Regions from separate parts of the Homo sapiens genome. Here region 2 is linked to region 1. A link means that fine-mapping ties the variant in region 1 to the expression of a gene that starts in the linked region. Tissue or cell type: whole blood. Region 1 holds a variant in brackets; the other region holds the start of a gene. All regions are shown on one strand. Distances are between the middles of the regions.

Region 1 (8,100 bases):
CGAGACCAGCCTGGCCAACATGGCGAAACCCCGTCTCTACTAAAAATACAAAAATTAGCTGAGTGTGGTGGCAGGTGCCTCTAATCCCAGCTACTCAGGAGGCTGAGGTAGGAGAATTGCTTGAACCTGGGAGGTGGAGGTTGCAGTGAGCCAAGATCTCACCACTGCACTCCAGCCTGGGCAACAGAGCAAGACTCTGTCTCAAAAAAAAAAAAAAAAAAAAAAAAAAAAAGGAGTAGAAAACAAGCATGTAAAGAGCAGAACTGGAGGAGACGGGCAAAATAAGAGCACCAGCAATGTTCAAGGCATCACAATGACATGGCCCTAACTGTGCTAAAGAGTCAGAAGGTGCGGGGCTCCAGTGGAAAACACAGTGGATTCAGGACCAGAAAAACAAAATGGAGAATTAGAAGGGTATTCCTGGCTGGAGCTGTAGTATGCTGAAAGGCGTGGTGATGGCTGGGTGCAGTGGCTCACACCTGTAACCCTGGTTCTTTGAGAGGCCAAGATGAGAGGATCACTTGAGGCCAGGAATTTGAGACCAGCCTGGGCCACATAGTGAGACACCATCCCTACAAAAAAAATTTAAAAATTAGCTAGGCGTACACCTGTAATCCCAGCACTTTGGGAAGCCTAGGCAGGCAGATCACAAGGTCAGGAGATCGAGACCATCCTGGCTAACACTGTGAAACCTCGTCTCTACTAAAAATACAAAAAAAAATTAGCTGGCCATGGTGGCGGGCACCTGTAGTCCCAGCTACTCGGGAGGCTGAGGCAGGAGAATGGCGTGAACCTGGGAGGCGAAGCTTGCAGTGAGCCGAGATCGCGCCACTGCACTCCAGCCTGGGCGACAAAGTGAGACTCCGTCTCAAAAAAAATTAGCTAGGCGTGATGGTGTGCACCTGTAGTCCCAGCTACTTAGGAGGCTGAGGCAGGAGGACTGCTTGAGCCCAGGAGTTTGAGGCTGCAGTAAGCCATAATCATTCTGTTGCACTCCAGCTTGTGTGACAGAACAGGACACTGTCTCTAAAAATACTAATAAAAGAAATTAGCTGAGCATGGTGGCGCATGCTTGTAGTCTTAGCTATTCGGAAGGCTGAGGTGGGAGACTCACTTGAGCCCAGGAGTTTGAGGCTGTAGCATGCTATGATCATAACACTGCACTCCAGCCTCAGCAACAGAGTGAGATCCTGTCACAAGAAAAAAAAAAGGCACAGTGAGAACACACAGCATCTGAATGTGGAGTGGCATGATGCTGCTAGAATGGAAGGTTGGTGGAGTTTACCATGGGAAAGGGAGTTGGAATGAGAGGTTGGAGCCAAGTTAGGGAGTGTGGGCCTGATCCTAGGGTGTTTGAGAGTCAGTGAAGATTTCTGAGTGCAAGAGGACATTGACCTGCAGCAGTGGTAAGAAAGATGAATGAGAGACTGGAGAGACACAAGTCTGGGATTCCTGTAAGAGGCTATTGGAAAAGACGCTGGAGCTCTGAACCAGGGCACTCCTGGTAGGAGTGGGAATAAGATCACGGGCTTGAGAGACATCCTAGAGACAGAGTTGGCTGAATTTACTACTGAGAAGGACTGGAGGACAGTAGGAGGGAGAGGAGGAGAAAACTTGGGTGTTGTTGAAGATACCATGGCCCTACCTTTTGCAGACCACCATATTCATGCCTCAATGCTGGGAACTTCCCTGGGCTCCGTTTCCTGTGCCCCATAGCTCTGGCTGCTTGGTCTCTGAGTTTTTCTTGTCTTAGTAACTGAGCTACTTCACTTCTGGCCTTGGCACATGATCACAGTGTTGAACTGTTCTCTCTCAAGGAACACTCTTGTCCCTTCCAGCCAGCCTGCAAGCTCCTCGATGAAAGACCCAGGGTGCATGTTGGTGCCCAGCAGGTGTATACCTGTCAAAGCACTAAACTGATTTGTGTGGCTTGAAGGCGTTTACTGGTAACCTGACCTCCTTCCCTCCCTCCCCTGCAGAGACCTCACCTCTGAGGACCAGATCGTACTGCTGAAGTCAAGTGCCATTGAGGTCATCATGTTGCGCTCCAATGAGTCCTTCACCATGGACGACATGTCCTGGACCTGTGGCAACCAAGACTACAAGTACCGCGTCAGTGACGTGACCAAAGGTATGCCTAGACTCCACCTCCTGGGGAGTCTTTTTCAGCTCCCAGATTCTGGCTCCACCCGTCCTGGGGTTTGGCTCCAATCAGATACATGGGAGGGAGTTAGGCACCAACAGGGAGAGAAGGGCGAGGGTCAGACCCATGGGGTTGGAGGTGGGTGGGCGGCTCCTCAGCTCTGCCCGCAGTACCTGGCCATTGTCTCTCACAGCCGGACACAGCCTGGAGCTGATTGAGCCCCTCATCAAGTTCCAGGTGGGACTGAAGAAGCTGAACTTGCATGAGGAGGAGCATGTCCTGCTCATGGCCATCTGCATCGTCTCCCCAGGTATGGGGCCAGGCAGGGAGGAGCTCAGGGACCTGGGGAGCGGGGAGTATGAAGGACAAAGACCTGCTGAGGGCCAGCTGGGCAACCTGAAGGGAGACGTAGCAAAAGGAGACACAGATAAGGAAATACCTACTTTGCTGGTTTGCAGAGCCCCTGTGGTGTGTGGACGCTGAGGTGCCCCTCACTGCCCTTAGCTCTGCCTTGCAGAGTGTGCAGGCGATTCGTAGGGGGGATTCTGAGGAACTAGATAAGCAGGGTTCCTGGGGCCACAGACAGGCCTGCGCATTCCCAATACTCAGGCTCTGCTCTTGCGTGAACTGGGCTCAACATTCCTGTTATTTGAGGTTTCTTGCGGGCAGGGTACAAAACTTTGGAGCCTGAGAGATGGTTCTGCCTATATAGTTTACCTGATTGATTTTGGAGGCAATGTGCAGTGACCCTTGACCTCTTCCGCTGGTTAGAGGTGAGAAGAGGGAGAAAAGGCCGAAGAGGAAGTTATTGTGACCTTGGGGACATGATGTCGGTGATGAGGTCCAAAGAGGGGCGGCCCTGCCTCAGCCTGTGCTAGTGGCCTGTGCCCAGGGATGCTTTCCTGGACTGGAGGCTCAAGGAATGGAGATGGGCTCCTCTACCCCTGCCCAGCCAGCCTTCTCTCATTCATTCATCCACTTAGCAACAATTTATTGAGCACCTATTAGGTACCAGGCACTATGCTAGGTACTGGGGTTCAGCAGCAAATGGGACACAGGCTCCTCTCCCATGAAGCTTAGGAGGAAACATTAAACAAATGTTATTTAATTATTAATTCCTAACAAGGCAAGAGTTTTAAAAATAAAGTAAGTGATGCTACAGAAGGGTAGAATAGAAGGAGGGAAGCTGACGTGGTCTGGGCTACAGAGGTAGAGTGTTGCCAGGAATGGCCTTTTGGAGGAAGACCTTTTAAGCTGTTATCCAAAGGATCAGTAAGAGTCTGGCAAAGATAGCAGAGCAGAGTTCCAAGCAGAGGGAGCACAGATGTGAAGGCTGGTGGCCAGAGAGCATGGCGCATCGGGACGCTGAGGGATGGACAGAGCATGGACAGGGAGCAAGGCCAGGCAGGGACAGGGCCAGGTGCGCCCATGGAAGGACCTAGGTCTGGATCCTAAATGCACGGAGAAGTCACTGGAGGGCTTTGGGGCCAGGCAGTGGTATCACCGGTCAGCAGTCATAGAGGGGTGGCCTAGGGGGTGCTGCCGTTGAGTGTCTGTGTGGGTGGGGGGTGGTGGGATTGAGCAGTGAGGGGCCCAGCTGAGAGCTCCTGTGCCTTCTTCTCTATCCCCGTGCCCACAGATCGTCCTGGGGTGCAGGACGCCGCGCTGAT[T/C]GAGGCCATCCAGGACCGCCTGTCCAACACACTGCAGACGTACATCCGCTGCCGCCACCCGCCCCCGGGCAGCCACCTGCTCTATGCCAAGATGATCCAGAAGCTAGCCGACCTGCGCAGCCTCAATGAGGAGCACTCCAAGCAGTACCGCTGCCTCTCCTTCCAGCCTGAGTGCAGCATGAAGCTAACGCCCCTTGTGCTCGAAGTGTTTGGCAATGAGATCTCCTGACTAGGACAGCCTGTGGCGGTGCCTGGGTGGGGCTGCTCCTCCAGGGCCACGTGCCAGGCCCGGGGCTGGCGGCTACTCAGCAGCCCTCCTCACCCCGTCTGGGGTTCAGCCCCTCCTCTGCCACCTCCCCTATCCACCCAGCCCATTCTCTCTCCTGTCCAACCTAACCCCTTTCCTGCGGGCTTTTCCCCGGTCCCTTGAGACCTCAGCCATGAGGAGTTGCTGTTTGTTTGACAAAGAAACCCAAGTGGGGGCAGAGGGCAGAGGCTGGAGGCAGGGCCTTGCCCAGAGATGCCTCCACCGCTGCCTAAGTGGCTGCTGACTGATGTTGAGGGAACAGACAGGAGAAATGCATCCATTCCTCAGGGACAGAGACACCTGCACCTCCCCCCACTGCAGGCCCCGCTTGTCCAGCGCCTAGTGGGGTCTCCCTCTCCTGCCTACTCACGATAAATAATCGGCCCACAGCTCCCACCCCACCCCCTTCAGTGCCCACCAACATCCCATTGCCCTGGTTATATTCTCACGGGCAGTAGCTGTGGTGAGGTGGGTTTTCTTCCCATCACTGGAGCACCAGGCACGAACCCACCTGCTGAGAGACCCAAGGAGGAAAAACAGACAAAAACAGCCTCACAGAAGAATATGACAGCTGTCCCTGTCACCAAGCTCACAGTTCCTCGCCCTGGGTCTAAGGGGTTGGTTGAGGTGGAAGCCCTCCTTCCACGGATCCATGTAGCAGGACTGAATTGTCCCCAGTTTGCAGAAAAGCACCTGCCGACCTCGTCCTCCCCCTGCCAGTGCCTTACCTCCTGCCCAGGAGAGCCAGCCCTCCCTGTCCTCCTCGGATCACCGAGAGTAGCCGAGAGCCTGCTCCCCCACCCCCTCCCCAGGGGAGAGGGTCTGGAGAAGCAGTGAGCCGCATCTTCTCCATCTGGCAGGGTGGGATGGAGGAGAAGAATTTTCAGACCCCAGCGGCTGAGTCATGATCTCCCTGCCGCCTCAATGTGGTTGCAAGGCCGCTGTTCACCCACAGGGCTAAGAGCTAGCGCTGCCGCACCCCAGAGTGTGGGAAGGGAGAGCGGGGCAGTCTCGGGTGGCTAGTCAGAGAGAGTGTTTGGGGGTTCCGTGATGTAGGGTAAGGTGCCTTCTTATTCTCACTCCACCACCCAAAAGTCAAAAGGTGCCTGTGAGGCAGGGGCGGAGTGATACAACTTCAAGTGCATGCTCTCTGCAGCCAGCCCAGCCCAGCTGGTGGGAAGCGTCTGTCCGTTTACTCCAAGGTGGGGTCTTTGTGAGAGTGAGCTGTAGGTGTGCGGGACCGGTACAGAAAGGCGTTCTTCGAGGTGGATCACAGAGGCTTCTTCAGATCAGTGCTTGAGTTTGGGGAATGCGGCCGCATTCCCTGAGTCACCAGGAATGTTAAAGTCAGTGGGAACGTGACTGCCCCAACTCCTGGAAGCTGTGTCCTTGCACCTGCATCCGTAGTTCCCTGAAAACCCAGAGAGGAATCAGACTTCACACTGCAAGAGCCTTGGTGTCCACCTGGCCCCATGTCTCTCAGAATTCTTCAGGTGGAAAAACATCTGAAAGCCACGTTCCTTACTGCAGAATAGCATATATATCGCTTAATCTTAAATTTATTAGATATGAGTTGTTTTCAGACTCAGACTCCATTTGTATTATAGTCTAATATACAGGGTAGCAGGTACCACTGATTTGGAGATATTTATGGGGGGAGAACTTACATTGTGAAACTTCTGTACATTAATTATTATTGCTGTTGTTATTTTACAAGGGTCTAGGGAGAGACCCTTGTTTGATTTTAGCTGCAGAACGTATTGGTCCAGCTTGCTCTTCAGTGGGAGAAAACACTTGTAAGTTGCTAAACGAGTCAATCCCCTCATTCAGGAAAACTGACAGAGGAGGGCGTGACTCACCCAAGCATATATAACTAGCTAGAAGTGGGCCAGGACAGGCCCGGCGCGGTGGCTCACGCCTGTAATCCCAGCAGTTTGGGAGGTCGAGGTAGGTGGATCACCTGAGGTCGGGAGTTCGAGACCAACCTGACCAACATGGAGAAACCCTGTCTCTATTAAAAATACAAAAAAAAAAAAAAAAAAAATAGCCGGGCATGGTGGCGCAAGCCTGTAATCCCAGCTACTCAGGAGGCTGAGGCAGAAGAATTGAACCCAGGAGGTGGAGGTTGCAGTGAGCTGAGATCGTGCCGTTACTCTCCAACCTGGACAACAAGAGCGAAACTCCGTCTTAGAAGTGGACCAGGACAGGACCAGATTTTGGAGTCATGGTCCGGTGTCCTTTTCACTACACCATGTTTGAGCTCAGACCCCCACTCTCATTCCCCAGGTGGCTGACCCAGTCCCTGGGGGAAGCCCTGGATTTCAGAAAGAGCAAGTCTGGATCTGGGACCCTTTCCTTCCTTCCCTGGCTTGTAACTCCACCAACCCATCAGAAGGAGAAGGAAGGAGACTCACCTCTGCCTCAATGTGAATCAGACCCTACCCCACCACGATGTGGCCCTGGCCTGCTGGGCTCTCCACCTCAGCCTTGGATAATGCTGTTGCCTCATCTATAACATGCATTTGTCTTTGTAATGTCACCACCTTCCCAGCTCTCCCTCTGGCCCTGCCTTCTTCGGGGAACTCCTGGAAATATCAGTTACTCAGCCCTGGGCCCCACCACCTAGGCCACTCCTCCAAAGGAAGTCTAGGAGCTGGGAGGAAAAGAAAAGAGGGGAAAATGAGTTTTTATGGGGCTGAACGGGGAGAAAAGGTCATCATCGATTCTACTTTAGAATGAGAGTGTGAAATAGACATTTGTAAATGTAAAACTTTTAAGGTATATCATTATAACTGAAGGAGAAGGTGCCCCAAAATGCAAGATTTTCCACAAGATTCCCAGAGACAGGAAAATCCTCTGGCTGGCTAACTGGAAGCATGTAGGAGAATCCAAGCGAGGTCAACAGAGAAGGCAGGAATGTGTGGCAGATTTAGTGAAAGCTAGAGATATGGCAGCGAAAGGATGTAAACAGTGCCTGCTGAATGATTTCCAAAGAGAAAAAAAGTTTGCCAGAAGTTTGTCAAGTCAACCAATGTAGAAAGCTTTGCTTATGGTAATAAAAATGGCTCATACTTATATAGCACTTACTTTGTTGCAAGTACTGCTGTAAATAAATGCTTTATGCAAACCAATTTGCCTTATCCTTATAAGGACCTTATGGGAGATGAATCATTATTACCCCCATTTGACAGAAAGGATAGCTTGAGCAATGCCACACTAGCAAGGGATGGGATTTGAACCTTCAGCAGCTAGGTTCAGAAGCCACAAATTAACTGCTACATTGTCCTGCTTCCTATTGAGTTGGGGGACCTGACAGACGACTGATGGTCTTGCTAGCTCTCTCCTAGAGAGGAGATAAAAGAGGTTCCCATTCCTAAAGCAGGCCCTGAGCCAGGAAAATTAGAGGTGCTGGACCAAACTGTGCTCTACTCCCAGGAAGTGTGCAGTCAATATATGACACCTACGTGAGACCCTCAAAAATGAAAACCAAACAGCTACTGGCAAAACTGTGTCTGCCATTAGAGATGGCGGCTGTGCCAGTGACCTGGAGGATTACAAATGACTGCTGTGCAGAAACAGGACTCCTAAGGGGCCCAACTTATGCCGATGCACTCCATTCTGCTTCCCAAGGAAGTGGGGTTTATGATGAAGGGTAGCATTGCTAGGCACAGTAAACAAGAACACAGCATTGTGATCTGAAAATAAGGAAATCATGCCAGCTAATGTATTGATTGAGGATAAGTTGGCCTGGGGATGTGATTCACTCTAATTTTTCAGAAACATCTGAAAATATTTCAAACCAAAGGCTAAAATGTGTTTCAGTGGGATGAGATGGACTTAGGGGAATTGGGGTTAGAACTTGAGGGTTATTTTGTGAAACATGAAGGGACTTAGAGAAAGGAAATCAACAGCTGCATAAATGGGCATGTCTCTGGCTGGAGAAATGTGGAGAATGGAGTTCTGATACACTGTTAGAAGGA
Region 2 (8,100 bases), 60 kb before region 1:
ATCAGGAACTTATATATATTCCTGAGTAAACTAGGTCACAGTAAAAACTTATTTCTTATTATGGGTTGCAGTTAAAATTTTGAAAAATACTGTCCTGGGAAGACCCCTTGGTTTGCTTTCATTGCTACAGCTTCTTACATTTATTCATTCTATTTTTACCATCTGGAACATAAATAAGGAGAGTCATCCCTGATCCTTTTTGTCTTAACTTGGGTTAGGAAATATAAATGAATTAATCTTTCTGAACTTAACGTGTGTTTTTTAAAAAATCTCTAAAACAAGGGAACAAACTGAAAAGATGGCCTGGTCCCTTCTGTCTTTCTAACTCCACGCTCATGTCTCTCAGAATGTTCTCTGGGTGTTTACTGAAGAGAGGCTTCTCTTCAGTCCTACCGTGCTCATAACCATAAAATATTTAAGGGGGGAAAATGGCCCTAAAAAAGGGAAAAACAAACAGTCAGATGGGAGTGTTCCAGAGAGAGCTCAAAGGGCACATTTTTACCTGCAGAGCAGCCTTTAGACAGCTCAAAAAACCTCTGTCCATGGGGACAGGGTCTCTGGGAGACTCACAGGGACAAAGTGACCCACTCTAGCTCTGACACCACAGCAAGAAGTGCAGAGAGCATCAGCCAGCCTCGAGGACAGTGGCCAGGCTGCAGAAAAAGGAAGCCCAGAGATGAGGACAGGCTGCAGTCCTGTGGCCTGACTGTAGCCACAACTGCCCAGGCCATCCCCAGGTGCCTGGAGCCTGGCAGAGAGGTCAAGAGACCAGGCCCTGCCTTTCTTTGGACTCTGTGGAATGAAATGCACAGGAATGAAATGAATGAAACGAAATCCTCAGCCTAGTACCTCTGGAATCTTTCCATCAAAGTCAGATGCACCGGGAAGGGCTCTTTTGTTTCTATATAGATTTTTGAGTCTATAGCACTATAGCAGAGTATCTAGCACACCACCAGACTTGGCTAATATTAACCAAGCAAGTGCTTACGAGATATTCCCTGATGTAATTTGGCAGAGATGAGTACTGACAAAAAACAATCTGTACATCCCAATAAAGACCACTACCCATCCCAGGGATAAGTGAGAATATGAGAAATGTTAACTTCAGGGAAAAGAAAAATTAATGTCTTCTGCAGAGGTTCTGGTACCTGGTTTATGGAGAAGTCAAGATAGGGGAATTTAAAACTATTAACTCTGTAGTGCAGGAATGGTGCTTGTCATCGAGGCATCAAGAGAACACGGTGTGGGACAGCAACCTCCCTTTCCAGTTGTGTACCTGGCTAGGGAGAAGTAGGGTCCAGAGACAATTAGGGATTACAACAGAACACAGGAGAAGTGAATCTCATATGATGTTGCTTTTCTACTTTCACAAAATAACCTTCCTTCTAAGAATAAAACAGGCAAAAAAAAATCTATCTTTGTTCAATGTAAATACAAGATGGTTCATTAGCAGGTGCCAAACCATGCAATATAGAAAATGCATGCGCTACAAAGACCAGAGAATTGACAGTTCCTTTCCTGGAGATGTTGGAAAAGCCTGATGGAATAGGCAGGACCTGAAAGAGGAGAGGGTCTGGAGAGGTGGATGAGAGAGAACAGTTCAGGTATTGGGGGAATATGGGAAGAACATGGTTACAGACAAGGTGACGGGGCTGATGACGGCATGTGCTGGGGACCGTGATGACATCTATAATCTTGCCCATCTGCCAAACGCAGAACCTCTGAGTTCTTCAACTCTGTGAAAAGTGCATGCATGGAAATTTTTTTTTTGTTTTTTAGAGGCAGCATGAAACAGTGGGATGTGCAGAGAGAAGATCTGGGTCCAGTAGCTCTGACACTCCTCAGCTGTAGAAACCTTGACAACTCTGCACATCAGTTGTACAATGGAACGGTATTTTTTACTCTTCATGTCTGAAAAGGCTATGATAAAGATCAAGTAAGATATTCCAAAGAATTTTTAAATTATAAAGCAGTTTACACATGTGAATTACAAGTACCTCTCCTCCAACAAAGGCTGTGAAAAAAGACTAACTCTCAGTTACTACGGAATACTTAGTACGCATCTTCCACCATCTTTTGATAAGGTTTATTTGCAAGATGTCAGGCCAGTCAAGCACCACAAAAGTGACTTCTGAGTGTTCAACCTCTTTCAGAGGCTCATGGGACTTGCAGAGAATGTCCCAAGGTATTGGTGGTTGGAAATTTCCTCTTATGCTTTTCTTCCCACAAGAATCACCGCTAGCTTTCCCACGATGCTTTGGGCAAGGGGATCCTTCCTATTACTTTCATTACAGGTAGAGAATCCATCCATCAGACTGGCAGGACCTCTAAAGGGGCACTTCATCTGTTTCTCAGAATAAATGGTCCATTCCCAAGTTCAATCAAACGCTATGCCTCTCTTCTGTCTTTTGTTTAAGTCTTCCCAGAAAGTTGCCATGATACCTCCATAATGAACTGTTGCAGTGCTTAACAAACTTCACTGTTGGAAGGTTCTTCCTTCTATTTAATCTCAGTCTATTTCTTTTAACCCTATTATTGAGTTGTGAGGGGCTGGTTATGATGTAGTCCAGCATAGCTGTCTCAGAAATGGTTCAGAGACCATTGCACCAGCAGATTTGCTGGGCTCTAGCACTAGTCCTTCATTGATTAGCTGAGTCATGTTGGGCATATCACTTAAACTTTCTATGCCTCAATTTCCCACCCTTTCACCTTGTCCCTCTGAGCCATGGTTTCCTCCTCTGTAAGAGGCGAATAGCAATATCTTCCCTGGCTAAAGGAGGTCATCGACTGCTGGATGATTTTGTGAGCATTTCTATTCCAGAAGATTATGTTGTAATTACTATTTATTTATACATTCTCCCACTGCACAGTGAGTTCTAAGAAGAGGGAACCCCATCTTTTTCACCTGTCCTCTAGCAGATAGAGCGGTGCCTATCACACAGTCAAGGGAAGCAGAGAATAACTTTAAGCCAAAATTTCCTGTGGTGAGTTTTCCGCAGCCATCCACAATTCCAGGTCTCAGGAGGTAGTCTTTATCTTTTCCCCTCACGCCGATGCCACGGGGCGGGGGGGGAAGGCGGAACTCGGGACCAGGGACCAGGGAAGCTGAGACTCAGCTCCCTTGGGTGAGATTCGCGACAGGCCGGGAACGTGGTCAGCCGCGGTCGCTGCCAAGGTGATATCGGGTGGGAGCAATGACGCAACTCCGGTTTCCACTTCGGCCCCCCGGGATATTTTACCCTAATCTGTGGGATCAGGCTGAGCTTCCTGGCGTTCTGCAGCAGTAACAGGTTGGCGAGCGGAGCCCGGGATTTCCCATTCGTGCGGAGCTAGCCGCCGGTGCCAGTCGGCAGGCGCCCCCCAGCGTCCCGCGGACGACGAAGTCCTGGCCTGGTCAGCCCAGGTGGGGGTGACGCACCTGGCTCAGGCGTCCGCAGCAGGCTGGGTAGAACCACGGCAGGAAGGGTGGGGGGCTGCATCCCCGATTAACACAGGCTGAAGCGGGTATCCGCACCTATAATCATCGACAACTCTGTCCCACAGAGGGCAGAAGCGTGCCTTGCCCTATGGACGACGGTCGATGAAAATTTCACGAGTTAGAGTATCTAAGGCTACAGCGTGGCCTATAGGGTGGTTGATTCCAAGTCAAGATGGTTGCAGCGCCAACGGAGCTCCTGGCAAGAGAGGACTGGACCTGTGGGCGGGGCGGAGGGGCGGGGCGGGGCCGGGGCGGGGCCTGACCGAGAGGCGGGGCCAGGTGCTGGGCTGTCTCTGCTTGTCAAAAGGCGGCAGCGGAGCCGTGTGCGCCGGGAGCGCGGAACAGCTTGTCCACCCGCCGGCCGGACCAGGTGCGAACCCGGGAGCAGCGGGAAAGGGGGTCTCAGGATAGGGACTCGGGGTCGGGGCGTCTGGGATACCGGGGCCTGAGCGCCCGGCTGCGAGCATTAGAGTCTAAGTCTCAGCGGTAAACTTGGCTACTGAGGTCCGGGCTGTCGTGCCATGAGGCTGGGACACTAAGGGGCACTGAGGTTTGAGAAAGCTGAAGTTCGTGCCAGGCTGGCGAGGGGAGCAGCGACATCCTCGGCGCTTAGGAGAAATGCTCCGCTAACACAGTGCTTAGCACTTGGGCAACAAGAAGTATTTGTTTCCTTCTTCTGTCGGGGCGCCTTGGCATGGAGTGGAGGAATAAGAAAAGGAGCGATTGGCTGTCGATGGTGCTCAGAACTGCTGGAGTGGAGGGTGTGTAACCTTATTTATTGTCTTACAGGGCCCAGGTATGGTCACCTGTGATGGTGGAGTTGGGTCTTTTAAGTAATTTTTTTTTTTTTTTTTTTTTTTTTACTTTTCTTTGAACTACCAATGAGTTTAGACCTAATTGGCCCTATTTTTTTTCAGGACAGCCTGTCAATAGATGTTCAGAGGAACTCAGGGGCAAGCATTTAAATGAGGAAGGGGCTCAAGGAGTAGTTTCTGTTTGAAAAGTGAGGTGCCCTGGATCTGTGGGTGGTGGTGAGGAAGATTCAGAAGTATCTAGGAGGGAACAGCCTGTGGTCTCCAGGGCCAGTGTACAACTGCCCCTCCTTCTCTTCACCCAGGGACCAGAGTCTGAGACCTAGCCTGGGCTGGGGGAGCCTTAGGTCTCCAAGCCCAGACCCTTCTCACAGTTCCTCCTCCTTCTCCTCCTCCTCCTCCTCCTCCTCTTGTTCCTCCTCCTCCTCTATGCGTGCGGTGAGTGAGTCAGCCTCCTGTCTGGGCTCAGTTGCAGCCAAAGGGGCCAGAGCCCAGGCAAGCAGTTGGGCAGGCATTTTCTGAGCATTGCAGAAGCTCTCCTGGGCAGAGTTCAGCTCTGCTCCAGCTCCCTGCTGGAAGGTGGTCTTCCTCATGGGCAGGGGCTCAGATACCCAACACAGCAGTGCTTATGGAATGGCTATGAGATGATTCTAGCAGGAGGTGACCGTGAAGGGATAGTGGCTTTATGATAAATCTACATCTCATCTTTCTCCTGGGATAAGGAGGTGCATCCCAGCACTGCAGGCTTTTCCAGCCCTTCCTTCCATTTCTGCCTAGTGGTCTCATTAGCAGCCCATCTCTGCTAGTGAAGGGGGTGAGCAAAAGAAATTAGGAAAGTCTGGGGCCAGAGAAGTCATGGTGTTGGCAAAGAAGGCTTTAACTCAGGCTAGGGAGTGAGGGTGATTTGCTGAGGTAGAAATGGGTTATCTGAACATTGGAGCCTCAATTCTATGGACTAAGAGTGTTGTGTGTTGAGAGACCTGCCGTCCCTTCCCTGTCCAAGTGCTGGAGGGAACTGTGAGTCTTTCTGAAACAGTCTCAGGGCTGGCATGCAGCCAGACCAGAAGGTAGTAAGACTGCACATTTCTCCCTGGCTTTTGTTTTGGGTGCTAGAGATCGTTGAACAGAAGTAGCCCTCCCTGCAGAGTCCGTGGCCCCCACTCAGCAGCCTCTCTGGACCTATTTGAGAAGAGTCCTGGGAGGCCAATCCAGCTGTGGGGCTGACTCAAACTGCAAAAAGCTGGGGAATTCACAGTCTATGCTCTGGCTGGGTCCCATGGCTTTGGGTTTGGCTGGTCTTGATCAGCTGTGACTTGGACCCTTACCAAGCTAAAGGAGGGACTAGAAAATGGGGTAAGAAAGGAGGGGAAAAAATGAGAGTTAGAAAGCCTTCCCAACCCTTTACTCCTCTTCGGCAGAGGCCATCAGACTTTGTTTGTATAAACATTATGGAAGGTCGGGTGCTGTTTGGGGTGCCCTGATAGTTTGTGTTTATGGTTTCTCAGTATTCTTCCCCTATTTGACCTCAAAACTGATCTCTTTTGTAACTAAGCCCCAGAGGAAGCTCCGAGAGGACCTCCTGAACCCCTACACTCTACCCCCAGAACAGATAGCAGGTGTCCAAAGCCCAGGCTGTGAATGGAGAAAGGCCTGGGACCGAGTGGGCTACATCAGGTGGCTACTACATCAGGTGGTTATCTAAGACACGAAAGGGAGTTCCCATTGTTTCATTCCTTACCCCACATCCTAAGGAGGCACCGCTGTCCTGGCTGGAATAGGCATCTGGAACCTCTGCTAGAAACTCGCTGTTGCCTGTGCAGCAGTCAGGTCCTAGGGGCCAGAGAGCCAGAGACGGGAGGACCACCTAGATGACATTTGGTGTGTTGCTGAATAAAGAATTACAGGGCTCCAGCTTCCATTTGTCCCTGCTGCAATTCTGTTTTGGATGCAGGTAGAGGGAAATAAGGAATTGACCAGATTTGATTAAGAGCCTCTTGTGTGCCCAGCATGACTCCAGGCCCTCTGAGGGATAGCAGGAAGCAGAACCCACCAGACCAGGCCCCTGACTCCAAGACAGTTTGAGCCCCAGGGTGGGCAGCAGTTCTCAGGCTCTCCCTCCACTATTGTCCAGTTCTGAGAGGATCCAGCTGGGCTGAAGCCAGCCTGGCTGCCACTCTGGGCCACCAAGGCCTTGCTTGTCATTTTGCTTCCCTCTGATTTGTCCCTAACCTTTTCCTGTGTCAGTGCCCTCCTAGATATGCTAGAAAGAGTGCCTGTGTAATGTATCTTGCAAACTGGGATACTTCTGAGAGTGAAAGGGGATGCCATGCATGGTTATACCAGGACAATGGACATAAACCCAAACTTTCCAGGGAAAAATGGAATATTAATCACCCTAGTGATCATCACTCCAAACTCAGCAGAGGTCACAGCAGTGATGAGGGGATGATAAGGTTGGGGGAGGCTTAATGCTCAAGGGAAAACAGGGGTAGCTTAATTCTGAGGACAGCCCCCGACACCCTAGCCTGCTCCCTGGTGTTATCAGCCAATTCTCGTCTTTTCCCTGGGGCGGCACTGCTCCCGGCCACCCTGTCCTGGGACCCAGCCCACCACTCGTGTGACTTCCCTTCACCCTTGACTTGTGACTGGCCTCACCTTTGGTTTTCCTGCCCCACCCCAACCTCAGACAGGGACAGGAAGGTCTGCCAACTCCTCTTCAGCTTCCCCTGGGGAAATTGGGGTTCATAGTGGAGCCAAGACTGGGCCTCACGTTTCCTCTTCCCTCTTCCTCCATATCTACAGCCTCCACATTTTGCTCATCCAGCTTCCCAGACCTCTGGGGACCACACTATCCCACAGAAAGTCTGGCTGTAAAGCAGGTAAGCAGCCAGGAAGGCAAGGGTAGGCAAACCTCGCCCACTCTGATAAAGGACATAGGTCACCTATAATCAGGTTCCGGGGAAATGAAAAGCAAAGTGGAGGCCAAAGCCAGGGAGAAGCTGCATTGCAGGAGACAGAGTCAGTTCCCAAAGACACTAGAGTTTGCCTCTTTGGTCTGGTCTGACTATTGGGGAAATGGTCCAGGGTGGGGAGAGGCTGTTCTTGCTCAATCCAAGTGACAGGCGTTGATGGCAGTGCCTGCATCCCGCTGTGGCGACATGTGGAAGAGAAACTGTCCTGCCTTCTGGGTCCTGGGTCCTCATGGTCCAGATGCAAAGGGTGGGATCCCCAGAGGTCCAGCCTGTGGGTGATCGGGCATAGGCGTGGAGGGAGCAGAGCCGCCACGATGACCATGTAGTGACTCTCAGTTACTCTGCCAGGAAGGAAGTCATTCTCACTGCCAACAAATGAAAAGTGCAAGTGAAGATCTCTTGGGAAGTCATGTCTTTGAAGTGACTTGTGGGCAAGGGGGGTAGGTGGTGAGACCGCCCCACCCCAAGGCTGGCTGGGAGAGGATGGGGGTGTCTGGTTGGTGAATAGCAGGAGTGGAAGGCAGAAGCAGTCAGTACTCTGTGAGTTGGAATGTGTGTCATGCTTTTGCAAACCTGCCCTGCAGGTCCTGTGCCAGGGAATAGACTAAGTGGTGTTCCCAGAACCAGATGCCATACAAAGTCCTCATTCTGCACAGGGGAGAGTCCTGGTCCTAAGCAGGGTGTGGGCAGCTGCACCGGCGGGAAAGCGGAGTCTGTGCAGACTCGGCAGTTGGTTCCTGAGAAGCTGCTGCCTCTCACTGGCCTTCTGATGACAACCTGGAGCTTGGAGGTGTTATGCAAGGTGGGACATTCCAGGCACTGTGGAATACCCATGAGG

What was found. PIP is the estimated chance that this variant, and not a neighbour inherited with it, causes the effect.
Region 2: it holds the start of VDR, and the variant in region 1 is fine-mapped to the expression of VDR in whole blood (INTERVAL, PIP above 0.99).

What each region holds. Positions count from the first base shown.
Region 1 is chr12:47,840,688-47,848,787 of GRCh38, reverse strand. It overlaps VDR (vitamin D receptor), which reads left to right. Exons shown (of 10, transcript NM_000376.3): 8 at 1,980-2,131; 9 at 2,337-2,453; 10 at 3,783-7,251. The coding sequence ends at 4,042. Among named protein-coding and RNA genes, the nearest start is that of LINC02354, 16 kb to the right of the region's middle. RefSeq lists enhancers at 2,407-2,908, 4,433-5,005, 5,006-5,579. The variant T/C (reference allele first, on the strand shown) is at 3,814.
Region 2 is chr12:47,900,703-47,908,802 of GRCh38, reverse strand. VDR (vitamin D receptor) reads left to right here and starts at 3,809. Exons shown (of 10, transcript NM_000376.3): 1 at 3,809-3,848. RefSeq lists a silencer at 3,687-3,816 and an enhancer at 5,200-5,399.